Homo sapiens: one gene and its partner. The protein of the gene in region 1 purifies or fractionates together with the protein of each later gene. This does not show direct contact. Each region holds a gene or a part of one and is shown in the gene's direction. Other genes may lie near its edges.

Region 1 (5,324 bases):
AGCTGGGTGCAGTGGTGGGCACCTGTAGTCCCAGCTACTCTGGAGGCAGAGGCAGGACAATGGCGTGAACCTGGAAGGCGGAGTTTGCAGTGAGCCGAGATCACGCCACTGCACTCCAGCCTGGGCAACAGAGCGAGACTCCATCTCAAAAAAAAAAAGTCACGATTCTGTGAATACTCAGTTCTGAGTTCGAATCTTACCTCTGTGCTCACACTGCTAGCAGAATGACCGGGTAAATCCCTGTGCCTCTGTTTCCTCCTCGGTAAAATGGGCTTGATGCTGGCCGGGCATGGTGGCTCACACCTGTAATCCCAGCACTTTGTGAGGCCGAGGTGGGCAGATCACCTGAGGTCAGGAGTTCGAGACCAGCCTGGCCAACATGATGAAACCCTGTCTCTACTAAAAATACAAAAATTAGCCAGGAACGATGTCATGTGCATGTAATCCCAGCTACTCAGAAGGCTGAATGAGGCAGGAGAATCGCTTGAACCTGGGAGGCAGAGGTTGCAGTGAGCTGGGATTGCGCCACTGTACTCCAGCCTGAGCCACACAGCAAGAATCCGTCTCATAAAAAAAAGGGCTGATGCTGTCCACTTCCAGGCCCCATTATAGAGATGCAGTAGAGATCAGGTGTGTCCTGTACCTGGCACTGGGTCTGATGCTTAGGAGGCCTTCATTCAGTGACTTGAGAGTGCTTTTTTTTGGTGGTTATCAAATAACAATAGTGAACATTCATGAAGCAGCAGCTACATGCCAGGCTTCTATGTCTATTGCCTGGCTCAGTGCCCCTAACAACTCTGTGAGGTAGATCCTAATATCTCCATTTTACAGCTGAGGACATAAGGCACAGAGAGGTTAAGTAACTTATCCAAGGCCACACAGCTGGTAAGTCAAGAAGCAGATTCCAGACTTGACTCCAGAATCTTATTTGTAATCACTGTAGTACATGGCCTTCCAGTTCTGCTCAAGAGATAGTGGAACAGTTAAATTACAGACTCAGACAAAAAAAATCAAAAATTAAAAAAAAATTTAAAAACAACAAAAAATAAAAAGTATAGACTCAGCTAGCTGCTGTAATAAAAACAAAGAGATCCCAGGGTAGAGTAATTTAAATAAAAAGGACGTTTAGTCCGGAGGGTCCTCCAAGGACCCAGGTAAGTTCTTCCAGCCCCAAAATGAGTTTCCAGCTCTGGGACTGAGGCCGCTGCACCAGCAGCCATCATTTCCCAATCAGGAAGAAGTGGGGAAAGAGTAGGGGACAAGCAACAACTCTTTGTAAAGGCGTCACCCAGAGATGGTACAGAGCACTTCTGCTTATATCCCATTGGCCGGAGCATGGTCACATAACCATCTCTAGCTGCAAGAGAGTCTGGGAAATGTAGTCTCTGGCTGGGTGGCCATGTGCAGTGCTCATACTCTTAGGGGTTTGGTTACCAAGAACGAAACAGGGAGGATGGATTCTAAGGGAGAAGTAACAGCCTCTGCCACAATCAGGATTCTTCTCTGAGATCCAGGCTGGGCCTGGAGTCCCTGGGAGGATAGAAATTGGAGGTCTGGGCTGGGCGCAGTGGCTCACACCTGGAATCCCAGCACTTTGGGAGGCCAAGGCCAGTGGATCACCTGAGGTGAGGAGTTTGAGACCAGCCTGGCCAACATGGTGAAACCCCATCTCTCCTGAAAATACATAAACTACCCAGGCGTGGTGCTGCATGCCTATAGTCCCAGCTACTCAGGAGGCTGAGGCAGGAGAATCACTTGAACCCAGGAGGCAGAGGTTGCAGTAGCCAAGATTGCCCCATGGCCCTTCAGCCTAGGTGACAGAGTGAGACTCTGTCTCAAAAAAAAAAAAAAAAAAAATTAGCCAGGCATGGTGGCACACGCTTGTAATCCCAGCTACTCAGGAGGGTGAGGCAGGAGAATTGAACTCAGGAGATGGAGGTCTGGCCCCTGCTGTCGACTAGGAGGGTCCGAGGGGCTGGAGGAGGGTCCTGGGACAGTGGAACCCCCACTGCCCAGATTACCATAGTGAATACAGGTATCCTTGACCTTTACATCTATCCCTTTCCTGATTTTAGATGGTGAGAGTTCAGATAGCAAAGTGTTTGCCAAGTTGATTTGGTTCCTGAGGTTTCGGCAAATAGCAAGGAAGTCACCCAAAAATGTCTGTGCATCTATTCAGTTGCTGCGTTTAGAGAGAGGAGAGTTGTGATAGGAGATGATTTGGAGCGGGTAGAGTTTGAAGAAGGGACAGTTTGAAGGAGGGGTAATAGGAGAGGAGAGAGTCAGTAAAATAATGCTAGGATTGTATAGTGCACAGCCTGCACAACTGTACGTTGCAGCCCTGTCTCTGAGTTCCAGGCTGGTTGCAGTCCCTGGTCTCAGGACAGGAATGTGAAGAATCAAAGGGACTGGGGCCCTGGCCTGCCTCAGTCCCCCACCCTGACTTGTCTGTCTCTGCCCACAGCTCAGGCACCCCACGGGTGCCCCCTGCCTCCCCCTCCAGTCACAGCCTGGCACCCCCATCAGGGGAGCGGAGCCGCCTGGCACGTGGTTCCACCATCCGCAGCACCTTCCATGGTGGCCAGGTCCGGGACCGGCGGGCAGGGGGTGGGGGTGGTGGGGGTGTGCAGAATGGGCCCCCTGCCTCTCCCACACTGGCCCATGAGGCTGCACCCCTGCCCGCCGGGCGGCCCCGCCCCACCACCAACCTCTTCACCAAGCTGACCTCCAAACTGACCCGAAGGTGAGCTCCGCGGGGATGGCAGGGGCAGGGCGGGGCGGGGGGCCGATGGGACCTAACCTGTCTTCCACTCTGCTCTGTCTCCTGTACCCCAACATTTCCTCTTCCTCCTCCTCCTCCTCCTCGTTTCCTCCTCCTCCTCCTCCTTTCCTCCTCCCCTGTCACCCCTCACCTCCCTCCTCACACTGCAGGGTTACCCTCGATCCCTCTAAACGGCAGAACTCTAACCGCTGTGTTTCGGGCGCCTCTCTGCCCCAGGGATCCAAGATCAGTAAGTCCCGTCCATGCCCTGTTCTCGCTGGCTCTGCCTCCCTGCCTGCATGTCTGACCTGTGTGTGCGGGCATTGGGAGGGGGCTCTGTGGATGTGAGGGTCTGTGCGTGGGGTCTGGTTGTTCATTTACTCACAGAAGCACAGCCTATGGAGCCAGACTCGGGGGTTCAAATGGCAGCTCTGCCAAGTGACCTTGAGCAAGTCACTCAAGGTCTCTGGGCCTGGTTTTCCTCTTCTGTAAAATGGGTATAGTAATAACAATACCTGTCTCCTAGGGTTATTGTGAGGACTAAATGAAGTGACGTATGGACTGAGCGTAGAACATTGCCTTGGAAAGTGCTTTACATGTGTATTAGTTATTAATTGCTATTATTCATTGAGCCCCTACTGTGTGCCTGGCACTGTCCTAGGCCCTGTAGTAGAGGGTGAGCAAAATGTACAAAACTCCTGCCCTGGCAGACCCAACATTCTACTAAGGGATCTAGACAAAAAACAAAGAAATAAGTAAAATATACTTACTATATAGACTGCTAGGTAGTGCGAAGTAACTAAGAAGAAAAATAGAGTAGGAGCCAAATTTGGTGGCTTATGCTTGTAATCACAGCACTTTGGGAGGCTGAGGCGAGGGGATCACTTGAGCCCAGAAGTTCAAGACCAGCCTGGACAACGTAGCAAGATCCTATCTCTACAAAAAAGTAAATAAATTGGCCGGGCGTGGTGACTGCACCTGTATTCCCATGGAATTGGGAGGCCGAGGCAGGAGGATCACTTGAACGCAGGAGGTCAAGGCTGCTGTGAGCTATGATCATCAGTCTTGGCAACAGAGGGAGAACCTGTCTCTAAAAAAAAAAAAAAAAAAAAAAAAAATTGAACAGGGAGGGGAATAAGGGGTGTGGGGAAGGGATGGGGTGCAGCATTAAATGGGCAGGCCTCTGGATGAGGTGGCTCAGGCCAGCAATCCCAGCACTTTGGACAGATGACTTGAGTCCAGGAGTTTGAGACCAGCCTGGGCAATGTGGCAAAGCCCCATCTCTACAAAACAAAACAAAAAACAAAAAGCAGATGTGGCACGCGCCTGTAGTCCCAGCTACTTCAGGGGCCAAGGCAGGAAGATTGCTTGAGCCTGGGAGGTTGAGGCTGCAGCGAGCTGAGATCACGCCACTCCTGCATGACAGAGTGAGACTCTGTCTCAAAAAAAGAAAAAAGGGCAGGCCTCACGAAGGAGGTGTTGTTTGAGCAAAGCATGAATGTATATGTGAGCGAGGGAGTGTGTGTGTGTGCACACGTGCGTGTGTCTCTCTCTTTCTCTCTGTGGCCACTTATCTATGTAAGGGTGTGTCTCTGCCCACTCCCCTCCCTTTCATCTTCCACATTCTTCAGTATCTTTCCTGTGACCTGCACTAACCATTTCAGAATGAGCCCCGTTATGGGGATGGACAAGGAGATCAAATCCTGACTCCAGGCCCTCACCAGCCCGGAGGGACTGGGGTTGAGGCAGGGGCTGCTTGGAGTCCCAGAGGCAGTGGGTTGCGGGAGGTGGGTTCCCTATGTCCAGATTAGACACTCTGTCCCCCTCCCCTCCCCTAGGGTCGCAGACGAACCTGAGAGAATCGGGGGACCTGAGGTCACAAGGTGAGTGCTTGGGCCTACCCCTGACTGCCACTTCCCCTCTCCTGCCTCAGCACCTCCCGACACTTACCCCAGGGCATTAGATGGGGCCCCAGTCTCATCCTGCAAGGCCAACTTCCTGAAATGCCCTGTGGCCCCAGCCTTCTCTGCCAGCTCCTCTCATTCCCACCCAACCCCAAGCACCTTCCCTTGATCATCTTAAACTTCAGCCTCCGGCTGGGTGCCATGGCCCAAGCCTGTAATCCCAGCACTTTGGGAGTCCAAGGGAGGCAGATCACCTGAGGTCGGGAGTTTGAGACCAGCCTAAGATGGAGAAACCCCGTCGTTACTAAAAATACAAAAATTAGCCGGGCGTAGTGGCGCATGCCTGTAATCCCAACTACTCGGGAGGCTGAGGCAGGAGAATCGCTTGAACCCGGGAGGCAGAGGTTGCGGTGAGCTGGATTGTGCCATCGCACTCCAGCCTGGGTAGCAAGAGTGAAACTCCGTCTGAAAAAAAAAAAAAAAAAAAAAAAAAAGCCTCATCCCATCCACAACTCAACTCCTCTTCTGGTCAATGCCCCCACCTCCTTTTGCCTCTCATCCAGTCATGGCACAATGTTTGCTGGCAGCTCAGGGCCAGCAGGAGGCAAACATCTGTACGGACCCAGATCATGAAGATTTTAGGCTTTGAGGGCCAGGCA
Region 2 (3,500 bases), on another chromosome or scaffold:
TTTGTTGGCAGTTTTTTTAATTACTGTTTCAGTGTCGCTGCTTGTTATTGATTTGTTCATAGTTTCTGTTTCTTCCTGCTTTAATCTAAGAGGCTTGTATATTTCCAGATTTTCTAGTTCATGCACATACAGGTGTTCATAGTAGCCTTGAATGATCTTTTGTATTTCTGTGGTATTGGTTGCAGTATCTCCCATTTCATTTGTAATTGAGCTTATTTGGATCTTCTCTCTTCTTTTCTTGGTTAATCTCACTAATGGTCTATCGATTTTATCTTTTCAAAGAACCAGGTTTTTGTTTCATTTATCTTTTTTGTATTTTTTGTTTCAATTTCATTTAGTTCTGCTCTTATCTTAGTTATTTCTTTTCTTCTGTTGGGTTTGAGTGTGGTTTGTTCTTGTTTCTCTAGTTCCTTGAAGTGTAACCTCAGATTATCTGTACTCTTTCAGAGTTTTTGGTTTAGGCATTTAAGGCTATGAGCTTTCCTCTTAGCACTGCTTTTGCTGTATCCCAGAGGTTTTGATAGGTTGTATCACTATTATTATTCAGTTCAAATAATTTTTAAATTTCCATCTTGATTTCATTGTTGACCCAGAGATCATTCAGGAGCAGATTATTTAATTTCCATGTATTTGTATAGTTTTGAGGGTTCCTTTTGGAGTTGATTTCCAATTTTATTCCACTGTGATCTGTGAGAGTACTTGATATAATTTAGATTTTTTAAAATTTATTGAGACTTGTTTTGTAGCCTGTCATGTTGGAGAATGTTCCAGGCTGAAGAAAAGAATATATATTCTGTACTTCTTAGGCGGAAAGTTCTATAGATATCTGTTAAGTCCATTTGCTCCAGAGTATAGTTTAATTTCATTGTTTCTTTGTTGACTTTCTGTCTTGATGACCTGTCTAGTGCTGTCAGTGGAGTACTTAAGTCTCCCACTATTATTGTATTGCCATCTATCTCATTTCTTAGGTCTAGTAGTAACAGTTTTATAAATTTGCGAGCTTTAGTATTAGGTGCATATATATTTAGAATTGTGATATTTTCCTGTTGGACTAATCCTTGTATCATTATATAATGTTCCTCTTTGTCTTTTCTAACTTGTTGCTTTAAAGTCTATTTTGTCTCATAGAAGAATAGCTACTCCTGCTTGCTTTTGGTTTCTGTTTGTGTGGAGTATCTTTTCCCACCCCTTTACAGTAAGTTTATGTGAATCCTTATGTGTTAGGTGAGTCTCTTGAAGACAACAGATACATGGTTGGTGGATTTTTATGCATTCTGCCATTGTGTATCTTTTTATTTTTTTGAGACAGAGTTTCACTCTTGTTGCCCAGGCTGGAGTGCAATGGCATGTTCTTGGCTCACTGCAACCTTCACCTCTCAGGTTCAGGCAATTCTCCTGCCTCACCCTCCTGAGTAGCTGGGATTACAGGTGCCCGCCACCATGACTGGCTAATTTTTTTGTGGTTTTAGTAGAGACGGGGTTTCACCATATTGGCCAGGCTGGTCTCAAACTCCTGACCTCAGGTGATCTGCCTGCCTTGGCCGCCCACCAAGCCTGGCCCATTGTGTACCTTTTAAGTAGAGCATTTAGGCAGTTTACATTCAGCGTTAATATTGAGATATGAGGTATTATTTTATTCATCATGGTAGTTGTCTCCTGGATACCTTGTTTTTTTGCACTGTGATATTGTTTCATAGGTCCTGTGAAATTTATGCTTTAAGGAGGTTCTATTTAGGTGTATTGTGAGTTTTGTATCAAGATTTAGAACTCATTTTAGCATTTCTTGTAGGACTGGCTTGGTAGTGGCGAATTCTCTCAGCATTTGTTTGTCTGAAAATGACTGTATCTCTTCCTTATTTATGAAGCTTAGTTTTGCTGGATACAAAATTCTTGGCTGATAATTAATTTGTTTAAGGAGGCTAAAGATAAGACCCCAATCCCTTCTGGCTTGTAGGGCTTCTGCTGAGAAATCTGCTGTTAATTTGATAGGCTTTCTTTTATAGGTTACCTAATGCTTTTGCCTGGCAGCTTTCAAGATTCTTTCCTTTGTCTTACTTTAGATGACCTGATGACTATATGCCTAGGTGGTGATCTTTTTGCAATGAATTTCCTGAGTGTTCTTCAAGCATTTTTATTTGGATGTCTAGATTTCCAGCAATACCAGGAAAGTTTTCCTCAATTATTCCCTCAAGTAAGCTTTCCAAACTTTTTGATTTCTCTCCTCTCCTTCCTCAGGAACATCAGTTATTCTTATGTTTGATTGTTTAACATAATCCCAAATTTCTTGGAGGCTTTGTTCATTTTTTTGATTCTTTTTTTCTTTGTCTTTCTTGGATTAGGTTAATTTGAAAGCCTTGTCTTCGAGCTCTGAAGTTCTTTTTTTCTACTCGTTCTAATCTGTTGTTGAAATTTCCCAGTGTATTTTGCATTTCTAAAATGTGTCTTTCATTTCCAGAAGTTTGATTATCTTTTCTTTATGATATCTGTTTCTCTGGAGTCCTTTTAAATTTTCTTTAAGTTGGTTTTCACCTTTCTCTGGTACCTCCTTGAGTAGCTTAATAATCAACCTTCTGAATTCTTTATCTGGCAATTCAGAGATTTCTTCTTGGTTTGGCTCCGTTACTGGAGAGCTAGTGTGATCTTTGGGAGGTGCTGTAGAACCTCGTTTTGTCGTATTACCAGAATTTGTTTTCTAGTTCCTTCTCATTTGAGTAGACTGTTTCATTGGAAAGATCTGGAACCCAAGGGCTGCTGTTCAGATTCTTTTGTCCAATGGGGTGATCCCTTGATGGGGTGTTCTTCGCCTTCCCCTAAGGATGAGGATTCTTGAGAGCTGGACTGCAGTGGTTATGCCCTTCTGGGGTTAGCCACCCAGTGCGGCTACTGGGCTCCAGGCTGGTATTGGGGAATGTCTGCAGAAAGTCCTGTGATGTGATCTGTCTTTAGGTCCCCGAGCTGTGGATACCAGCACCTGCTTCGGTGGAGGTGGCAGGAGAGTGAAGTGGACTCTGTGGGAGTCCCTGGTTGTATTTTTGTTTAGTGCACTGGTTTTCTTGAATGCTGGTTTATGCTAGCAGTGAAGTTGCCATGTGGACAGACTCAGGATCTCTGGTTAGCCAGGATGTTGCAGGCGGTGGAATTAGCTGTTGTTTTTCCCTTTTTGGAGCAGGGTTGTTCTGTTACGAGTTTCTGTAGTGGCTTGAGTTGGTTGGCCTTCAGCGAGGAGGTGGTGCTTTCAAGAAAGCATCAGCTGTAGTAGTATAGGGGGGATACAAGCTTGTCTATGTAGGCCAGGATAAGTATTTTGGTTTCTTAGGTAATGGGCAGGGCCATAGAGCTCCCAAGAGTTTATGTCTTTTGTCTTTGGCTACCAGGGCAGGTAGAGAAAAACCATCAGGTTAGGGCAGAGTTAGGTGGGTCTGAGTCAGACTTTCCTTGGGCAGGGCTTGCTGTGGCCACTGTGTGGGGTTGGGGAGTGGTTCTCAGGTCAATGGAGTTAT

What was found.
Region 2: the proteins of MARK4 (region 1) and RPIA purify together in Homo sapiens (affinity purification with mass spectrometry; one large-scale study listed by BioGRID and IntAct). This does not show direct contact.

What each region holds. Positions count from the first base shown.
Region 1 is NC_000019.10:45,295,212-45,300,535, forward strand, and holds part of MARK4 (MAP/microtubule affinity-regulating kinase 4), read left to right. Parts: intron 1-2,464; coding exon 2,465-2,743; intron 2,744-2,931; coding exon of another isoform or gene 2,932-3,011; intron 3,012-4,599; coding exon 4,600-4,644; intron 4,645-5,324. UniProt on the Homo sapiens protein: Serine/threonine-protein kinase. Phosphorylates the microtubule-associated protein MAPT/TAU. Also phosphorylates the microtubule-associated proteins MAP2 and MAP4.
Region 2 is NC_000002.12:88,743,673-88,747,172, forward strand, and holds part of RPIA (ribose-5-phosphate isomerase), read left to right. Parts: intron 1-3,500. UniProt on the Homo sapiens protein: Catalyzes the reversible conversion of ribose-5-phosphate to ribulose 5-phosphate and participates in the first step of the non-oxidative branch of the pentose phosphate pathway.